2 separate regions of the Homo sapiens genome follow, and region 2 is linked to region 1. The links come from fine-mapping of genetic effects on gene expression. A gene starts in region 1. The other region holds a variant in brackets. All regions are shown on one strand. Distances are between the middles of the regions. Region 1 holds the start of CPTP (ceramide-1-phosphate transfer protein). Region 2 overlaps SCNN1D (sodium channel epithelial 1 subunit delta).

Evidence for each region.
Region 2: its variant is fine-mapped to the expression of CPTP in whole blood (TOPMed, PIP 0.93).

Annotation. Positions count from the first base shown.
Region 1 is chr1:1,322,723-1,327,225 of GRCh38, reverse strand. CPTP (ceramide-1-phosphate transfer protein) reads right to left here and starts at 2,424. Exons shown (of 3, transcript NM_001029885.2): 1 at 2,124-2,424; 2 at 194-390. The coding sequence starts at 315. INTS11 (integrator complex subunit 11) reads left to right here and starts at 2,566. Exons shown (of 17, transcript NM_017871.6): 1 at 2,566-2,645. The coding sequence starts at 2,618. RefSeq lists silencers at 1,968-2,467, 2,648-2,777 and an enhancer at 3,596-4,105.
Region 2 is chr1:1,281,262-1,285,261 of GRCh38, reverse strand. It overlaps SCNN1D (sodium channel epithelial 1 subunit delta), which reads right to left. Exons shown (of 18, transcript NM_001130413.4): 2 at 3,965-4,000; 3 at 3,652-3,851; 4 at 2,947-3,020; 5 at 1,172-1,284. Among named protein-coding and RNA genes, the nearest start is that of SCNN1D, 2.8 kb to the right of the region's middle. RefSeq lists a silencer at 1,902-2,102. The variant G/A (reference allele first, on the strand shown) is at 1,842.

The DNA.
Region 1 (4,503 bases):
GGGCTCGAGTCCTCGCCCAGGCCTGGGGCAGCCCGCCTGGGGTGCAGGGGACGCTGCCCAGCCTGCGGGGGCTCACACCCATCTGGAAACGGGCAGCAAAGCTGGTGGGGACAGGCAGTCGGGAGGCAGATGCCACATATGGGACTCGGGCCAGGGGAGCGCCCACCTCAGGAGGCAGCCCTGGCACACGCACCTGACCAGGCCCTTCCAGCTGGCAATGTAGGGGTCCAGCAAGACCTCTTCCTTCTCATCGAGACACTGCTTGAAACTGACCAGGACGACTTTCAGATTGAAACCTGTCTCCGAGTCATCCATTTTTTGATAGGAACGGAAATACAGTAGGGCTGGGGGGCTGTGTCGCTGGGGTCAGCTTGCTCTGTGGCTCATTTTCTGTGTGTGGAGGGGAACAAAATAGCTGCGATCCCATTGCCGCTCACTGAACACTCATGCCCCTCATGGAGCTTCCTCCCAGGAGCTGCCTGGCTCTGCTCCCAGCCAAGCCGCAGGCTCTCAGGCACACCACCCTGACCCACCCTTCATCAGGATTGCGCATTCAGGGACCTTGGCACAGCCCCTCCTGTGGATCAGGCCACTGACTCCGTGTCAGTCCCTGACCCCGAGAGTGGCCCCCTCTGGCTTTATCAGACCACTAGGCCCCGCTGTCTGCAGCAGGTGTCTCTGCTGGTGCTTTCTTGTTTTTGTTTCTCTCTCTAGATGCTGTATCTGCTTTTACCAGCTGGAGAAATACTAAGCCCCTGCCGAGAGCCAAGCACCATCCTAGCCATCTATCTGGGTGCATGGGGAGTGCGAGCAGCCATCTGGGGTGGGGTCAGATGACAACAAAGACAGGAAGTTCTGAAGTCCTAGACAAGAAAACAGACACAGCAGAAAGCAGAGACAGGTGGGGCCGGGGGTGGGGGGATGCTGCCGGGCAGGCTGCCCCATCTTCCTCACTGCTACATCCCCAAAAGCAGAAAAGAGGCTGTAGGGCTGGCACTTGCTGGATGGATGGACACGTGTTTTCACTCCTGTTGCTGAAACTCCATGTCCCACACAGATGGGTTTTACCACTCAGAAGATTGCCACGAGGCTCTTGTACTAGCCCTAGGGAGCCTTCCACGAGTGGCCCAGGCCCTGCTTTGGATTCTGCTGGCATTCACATAGTCACTCCACAGATCCACAGACATCCAGGCACCCATGCTTTGTGTGAGTGTTGCCAAGCACCCTTGCCCTGTCTCCCCGGGTGCCCCACGGGCCCGCACCTGCTCTGGGGAACCTGAGAGTCAGCTGCATTCCACCTCGACCAGGAAGAGGGCCTGGGGGTTCCTAGGCCGGTTGGTGCTGGGAGCCCTGTCCTGGCCTCCCTGGCTGCAGGGACTCCATCGGTGGGGGAGGGGGAAGGGCACCCAGCCGTGGTGAGAGCTCCTGGCCAGGAGCAGGTGGGCAGGTTGCTCAGCACCCTAGGACTGGGCCCTTCATCACTAGGGATCATGGGCTGCAAGCCCTGCCCAGCCCGTGGCCCAGGCTGCTGGAGCACTGGTGCCTGCAGGGTGCTGAAGCCTGGCGTTGCAGGCCCCACAGGTTGGGTTGCATGCTTGGCACCAGGCGGAGGCCCCAGATGTGAGCTCACCGGGCTTCAGGTGTGGGGGATGGCTGCTCCTGGGCCTCAGAAAGATGCAGTCCCATAGACTTCCAGCACGCCCCTCCCCTCCTCGGGCCTTAATTTTGTCCACTGAGAAGATGGTCTCTGAGGCTCTGGGGTTTCCTTCTTGGTCACCAGATATTCTGCGGGCCTTGCCTTCCTGCCCAGATTCGAGCCAGTGGCAAACAGAAGCTGCCAGGAGCTTCTCAGAGCTGTGGCTGGTGGCTCGGTAACAACAGGAAGGGCAGTGGCTGTGCAGGAGGCAGGCAGCTTGCCAGCCCAGGAAGGTGACCCAGGACACCTCCAGGCCTTTCCCAGGGCAGCCCAACGGCCCAAGGTCAGGGCCGGGCGCGAGGGCGGCCTGAGCACAGAGCACGGGGGCTGACAGCAGGCTGGGGGGCCAGCAGGAGACGGGGCCCCACGGCGCCCCAGGCCTTGTGGGTGGGACCAGACCCTGTCGAGCGAGCGCTACGAGTCTCACCTGGGAAGGGGGCTTCAGATGGCACCGGACTGGATGGGCACCGGTTCGGGTCCCTGCTCCACCGAGAGGCCCAGGAAGGGGCGGAGGCCCGGGGTGGTGTTGGGGAGGGGCCGACCTGAGCCACGGCTCCGTCCTGCGCGGGAGCCGGGTCCTCGGCCGCCCGCCCGCTCCGGCCCTCTAGGACGACGTCCCCTCCCGCTCCCGGCCCCTCGGCGACTTCCGGACCGTGCGGGTTGGGTTGGGCAGGTGCGGCCGCCGAGTCCGAGCCGCTCACCTAGGCCGTAGCCGCCGTGCGGGCCCCGTCCCCGCCCACCGCCCCGCCCTCGCCCCGCCCTCGCCCGCCGCCCTGATTGGTTGGATGCTGCCCAATCAGGAGGCCCGGCGCCCCGACCCGCGTTTCCGGCTAGCGCACCGGAAGTTGCAGCGAGGTGGTTGCGCCTGCGCAGTGCATCACCGCAGGCGGGCCTCGCGGGTCCGGGAGCGCGGCGGAGACGATGCCTGAGATCAGAGTCACGCCCTTGGGTGAGTGGGAGCCGCCGGGAGGGCTGTGGGGTGGGCTCCGTATGCGGCTCCGGGCGGGCTGGGCGCCCCGCTCCCTCCCGTTTCTCGTGGAGCCAGGTGCGCGCCGCGGGCGTCCTCCGGTCTCCTCCCCGCGCGGGCCCTGGTGGGAGCCGAGAGGCGGCCTAGTCCCTGCACCCCGGGCCTCCGGCAGTGACGCGAGAACGCGAGCCCCGAGGTTCAGGCGGCCGTGAGGGGACGTCGCAGATGGGGCCGCGGGGCCTTCGCGCTCGCTGTGCGCTTTCGTCGGTGCCTTGACCTCCCCGTGCCGCGCGCTGCCGCCTCCAGCCCTACCAGCCCTTCAGTCCCTTAGCCCCTCAGCCCCGCAGACCCTCAGCCCCCCAGCTCCCCAGCCTCTCAGCCTCCCAGCCCCTCAGCCCCCCAGCCCCTCAGCCCCCCAGCCCCCCAGCCCCTCAGCCCCGCAGACCCTCAGCCCCCCAGCTCCCCAGCCTCTCAGCCTCCCAGCCCCTCAGCCCCTCAGTCCCTCAGCCCCCCAGCCCCCCAGCGCTCCAGTCCCCCAGACCCTCAGCCCAGCAGACCCTCAGTCCCCCAGCCCCTCAGTCCCCCAGCCCCTCAGCCCAGCAGACCCCCAGACCCTCAGCCCCCCAGCCCCTCAGCCCCCCAGTCCCCCAGCCCCCAAGCCCCTTAACCCCGCAAGCCCCTCAGCCCCCCAGCCCCGCTTCTGCCTCCTCACGTCTTGCTTTCTGTCCACCACTCTGTGTGCTCACGCCCGAGTTACAATCAACTCTCACTTTAGCTCTTGTTCTACCTGATTTCTGCAACACTGAAAAAAATAGCAAAAAACGCAAATATGTACTCCTAAAAGTCCTGACAGTCTGGGCACTGTGGCTCACGCCTGCAATCACAGCACTTTGGAAGGCAGAGGTGGGAGGATCGCTTGAGCCCAGGAGTTCAAGACCAACCTAGCCAACATGGCAAGACCCCATCACTCCAAAAAAAAAAAATGCTAAAATTGGCAGGGCGTGGTGGTGTGTGCCTGTGGTTCAAGCTACTTGGGAGGCTGAGTTGTGAGGATTGCTTGAGCCCAGGAGGTTGAGGCTGCAGTGAGCCATGATTGTGCCACTGCACTCCAGCCTGGGTGACAGCAAAACCATGTCTCAAAAGAAAGTCAAAGTCGTAACAGTATAGAACGATGTGAAGAAGGAAAAAATTAGTCAAAATCCAGGGTCTCAGAAACAGCTGGAGGGACATGGTGTTGGTGGCCAGTCATCCTGATGTCCTTAGCGTTTTCCACAGGTGCCTGCCCTGTGCTGTCCTGGAACCTGGTCCTTCCACCGGGCAGGGGGTCGAGGGCACCTTCCAGCACAGACACCAGGACGGGATTCCATGTCCTCCCCCATGGCGTGAGCGCTTCCTCGGAGGGTGCCCCCCGCCCCGGTGTGGACACTGTGCTGTGAACACCCCTGGCCTGTGCACACCCCATGGCATTTTGCAGCTGTTTGCATGGGCCCCACTGCCCTCCCCTGCTCTCTGGGTCCTCCGTGGGGTCCTCCCAGCCTGCCCCTTTCCCATTTGGCCTCTTGGCTGCCTGTTCTGCCCACTCTCTGGACATCTGATCTTTCTGATCTTTCATGTGGCTTCAATTACCCGCAATCTGTACCTGGGTATATTCTCAAGGTCACCTCAGCCAAGGTATCATCAAAGCCGAAGTCCTGTTTCACCGCTTCCCTGCACCAGGGACTGCCTCGGGCTCCGTGTCCGCGCTCACTGGACCACTGCTGTGTCCTTGGGGTCACTCCCACGCCTTGGCCTGTGTGTGGCTACCCCCCCCGCCGCCGGTCCCCCTACCCACCCTGCCCAT
Region 2 (4,000 bases), 42 kb after region 1:
CAGGCCTAGCTCTGGTCTGCGAGGCTGTCCCGCTGCCCAAGCCTGCTCCGAGGTACTCTGGGGAGGTGCTAGAGCGAGCCAGAAGCTTCGGGGCCTGGGGACACCAGGTGGGGACGGCTCCCCTCGGGTGTGTGGGCCGCACAGGCCTCCAGGCAGCCTGGCCAGGAGCTCCACCACTGGGCACATGGCTCTGCTCACCCTGCGTCCCCAAGGCCATCTGAGCAGGGAGGCTAAGAGGCTCGGAAGGGTCTTTGTGACTCCAGTCCCCACTCCTCGTCTCCACCTGGCGCATAGACAGGGCAGCACCATCCCCCTAGTGGGGGCTGCCAGGCCAGCAGAAGCGGGAGCTGTGGATTGGGGTCTGGAGGGCCAGTCAGGGTCCCCAGGGCTTCTGAGTGAGGCAGGGCCTGGACCCCTGGTCAGAGAGGAGCCGGACCCCACCCTGCATGTGCGCGTGTGTGTGAGACAGGACTACACTGGCCTCTCCACCCTGTCTGGATCTGCGTCGTGCCATGTGGCCAACCCACGGGATGCACAGCGCCTGGACACGCAGTATCTGCAGTGTTCTCCCGGGGTCTGTCCAGCACACGCTATGCACCCCCAATGGTCCAGCACACACTGTGCACCCCCAGTGGTCCAGCACACGCTCGGCACCCCCCGTGGTCCAGCACACGCTCGGCACCCCCCGTGGTCCAGCACACGCTGTGCACCCCCCGTGGTCCAGCACACGCTCGGCACCCCCAGTGGTCCAGCACACACTATGTACCCGCAATGGGACACAGCCTTCTTCAGGATAAGGAGGCACTCAGGGATGACCTGCCCCATTGCCACCATGCAATCCTGTTCCTGATGGCACACGGGGCCAGGCATCGGAAAGAGACCCCCCAACCCAGCCCCTGGTACCTCAAGGTGGGAGCCCCCCCGCCAGCCCCACCCCCCCACCCCTACCCCCCACCCCAATCCCCCCACGGTACCTCGAGGCGGGTCCCCCCAACCCCAACCACCACCTTGGTACCTTGAGGTGGGGCCCCCCAACCCCAACCCCCTCATCCAACCCCCCCAACCCCCTCACCCAACCCCCCCAACCCCCCCACCCCCCTCACTCAACCCCCCCCCCGACCCCACCCCCCTCACCCAACCCCCCCACCCCCCTCACCCCCCCCCACGGTACCTGGAGGTGAGAGCCCCCCCGTGTGGCTGCTTCCATTCTCCCGTCCATGCTTCGGTGCTCAGCCATTGCGGGGGCAGCTGGCAGCTCTGAAGCAGGATGGAGCCTCTGGCCTCCTATTTAAAACAGGCTGGCTGGGCGTGGGACTGTGCTGCAGGCGAGGGAGGACCCAGCCAGGGCAGCCACACCTGCCCCGGACCCAAAAGGGGAATTCCTGGGGGACAGAGATGCCCATCCCTCTGCAGGTGAAATCTTTCCCATCCTGAGCCCTGCAGGGGAGGCCTGGGGTCCTGACCCTGGCTGAGAGTAAGGGGCTGCAGCCTGTGGAGGGAGGGGGAGGACAGTGTTGGGCTGAGACCTCCTTGGAAGCCCCATCTTTCTTTCTTTCTTTTCTTGAGATGGAGTCTCACTCTTGTTGCCCAGGTTGGAGTGCAATGGCACGATCTAGGCTCACTGCAAGCTCCACCTCCCGAGTTGAAGCAATTCTCCTGCTTCAGCCTCCTGAGTAGCTGGGATTACGGGCACCTGCCACCATCCCAGGCTAATTTTGTATTTTTAGTAGAGATGGGGTTTCTCCATGCTGCTCAGGCTGGTCTCAAACTCCCAACCTCAGGTGATCCGCCCGCCTTAGCCTCCCGAAGTGCTAGGATTACAGGCGTGAGCCACCGTGCCC[G/A]GCCCAGAAGCCCCATCTTTCTCTGCCAGCTCCTGGAACTCAGATCCGGGGCCGTGGTGGGCTCCCAGCACTCCCTCCCTTCCCTGGCTGACAGACACTGGGTGGGGACCTCAGCTCCCAGATCCAGTGTCTCTCGGGACCAGCCGCCCAGCCATTGGGACAGGTGCTAATGTGGGAACACCAAGGGTCTGGGTGTGGAGAAGGCACCTGCTCCCCCGAGTAGGCACAGGGGCTCGCCCTCCCTGCTGGACACTATAGCTGCCACCAACCACACCACACACTAAGATGACGCGCCACACACTAAGACTTTCAGTCCACACCCACACCACACACACCAAGATGCTGGCACACATGGAAGTGACTCACGACCACCAGGCGCGGTGGCTCACGCCTGTAATCTCAGCACTTTGGGAGGCCGAGGCGGGCGGATCACAAGGTCAGGAGTTTGAGACCATCCTGCCTAACACGGTGAAACCCCGTCTCTACTAAAAATACAAAAAATTAGGTGGGCGCGGTGGCAGGCACCTGTAGTCCCAGCTACTGGGGAGGCTGAGGCAGGAGAATGGTGTGAACCCAGGAGGCGGAGCTTGCAGTGAGCCGAGATCGTGCCACTGCACTCCAGCCTGGGCGACAGAGCAAGACTCCGTCTCAAAAAAAAAAAAAAGAAAGTGATTCACAACACACTAAGACCCCACACATGCTAAGACCACACACGTATGCTAATACCTCACACACGCTACGACCTCACACACACTAAGACCACACACGCTAAGACCTCACACATGCTAAGACCACATGCTACTGTCAGGGTCCAAATCACAGTCTCCCAGGCTGGCGTCTTCAGCCCCAGTGCGGTTGTGTGGAAGGCAGGTGTCCCTGTCCCCCAGGACCACCCCATCCCTGTCTACTGTGGGACCCTAGATATCCAGGTGGCCTCACTGTCCCAAATGACCAGACCCGAGCCGGGCCCAGGTTGGAAGGGTAGGCTCTGTGTTCCTGACATCCTGCCCCAAGTGGTGCTGGGTCCCTGGGCTTGGCTGGGGGAGCCCAGCCCCACAGGGTCCAGCAGCAGAGCCATGGCTCTGAGGAGGGTGAGGTCACCTGCCTGCCGGCTCTGGAAGGAAGCAGCTGCCACCGGTGACGTCCTGGAGAGGAAAGCCATGCTGGAGTCACCCAGGCCTGTGTGAATCACAGCTTCGTCACTGGCTGTGTGGCCTTCCCGAGTTACTCAACCTCTCTGAGCTGATTTCCTTGAGTGCCAGATGGGGCTGGGGTGCCTCTCCAAGCTCGCGGCAGGGGGCTTGCTGATGTCACAGAGACCCCACAGGTCAGCGGCAGGGCCCCCGGACACAGCACAGGCCTGGGGCTTCTCCCCCACCACATCTGGGCAGCTTTGTGCGTGGGCCGCACCTGCCGAGGAGACAGGGCACACATGGCCCGGGCGGCTACTTGGCAGGCGGGGACAAGGTCCTAGGTGCTTGCCAGAGATTGTGGCTGGAAGCAGCCTGTGCCTCCCTGTGTCCCCGGGAGTGGCCTGGCAGACAGCCCAGCCTTGGTGCAGGGTGCAGAGAGAGAAAGAGCCCAGGTCCGGCCAGTGGGGCCCGGTCCAGCCAAAGGGCAGCTTGCAGGAGCAAGGCCCCCGGCTTCCTGTAGGAGGGGGAGCCCTGGCCGGGGGCAGAGCACCCCTTCCATGACCCGTATGCCCTGCAGGGCCTCAGTCAGAGCACATCTCGGCTGGATCACGCAGCTCCCGGCTCCACCCCCCTCCCCTCCTCCCGGGCAAGGCCTCTAAGGGCTGAGGTTCAGTCACCTGTCCCACACCCCTGTATCGGGCCAGAGAGTAGGCAGAGGGGGTAGCCACAGAGCACATGTCCAGCACTGGTGAATCCACATGGTCCTCCCCCTCTTCTGGGCCATCCCCTCGCTGGCCCGGTGCAGGGGGTGGGGTGGGGCGAACCCAGCTCCCGGCATGTGGGGGTCCTGTGGTCACTGCACCATGACCAGGTGAGCCTGAATGAGAGAAGGGACGGGCAGGCATCCCTGGCTCCCTTTGGGCCCATGCCTCTGCTCTCTCCCAGGAAAGACGGCCAGGCCCCATTGACCGAGCATGGCTGTGAGCTCACCTCCTTGGGCCGCTGAGGTGGCCGGGCCACAGGTAA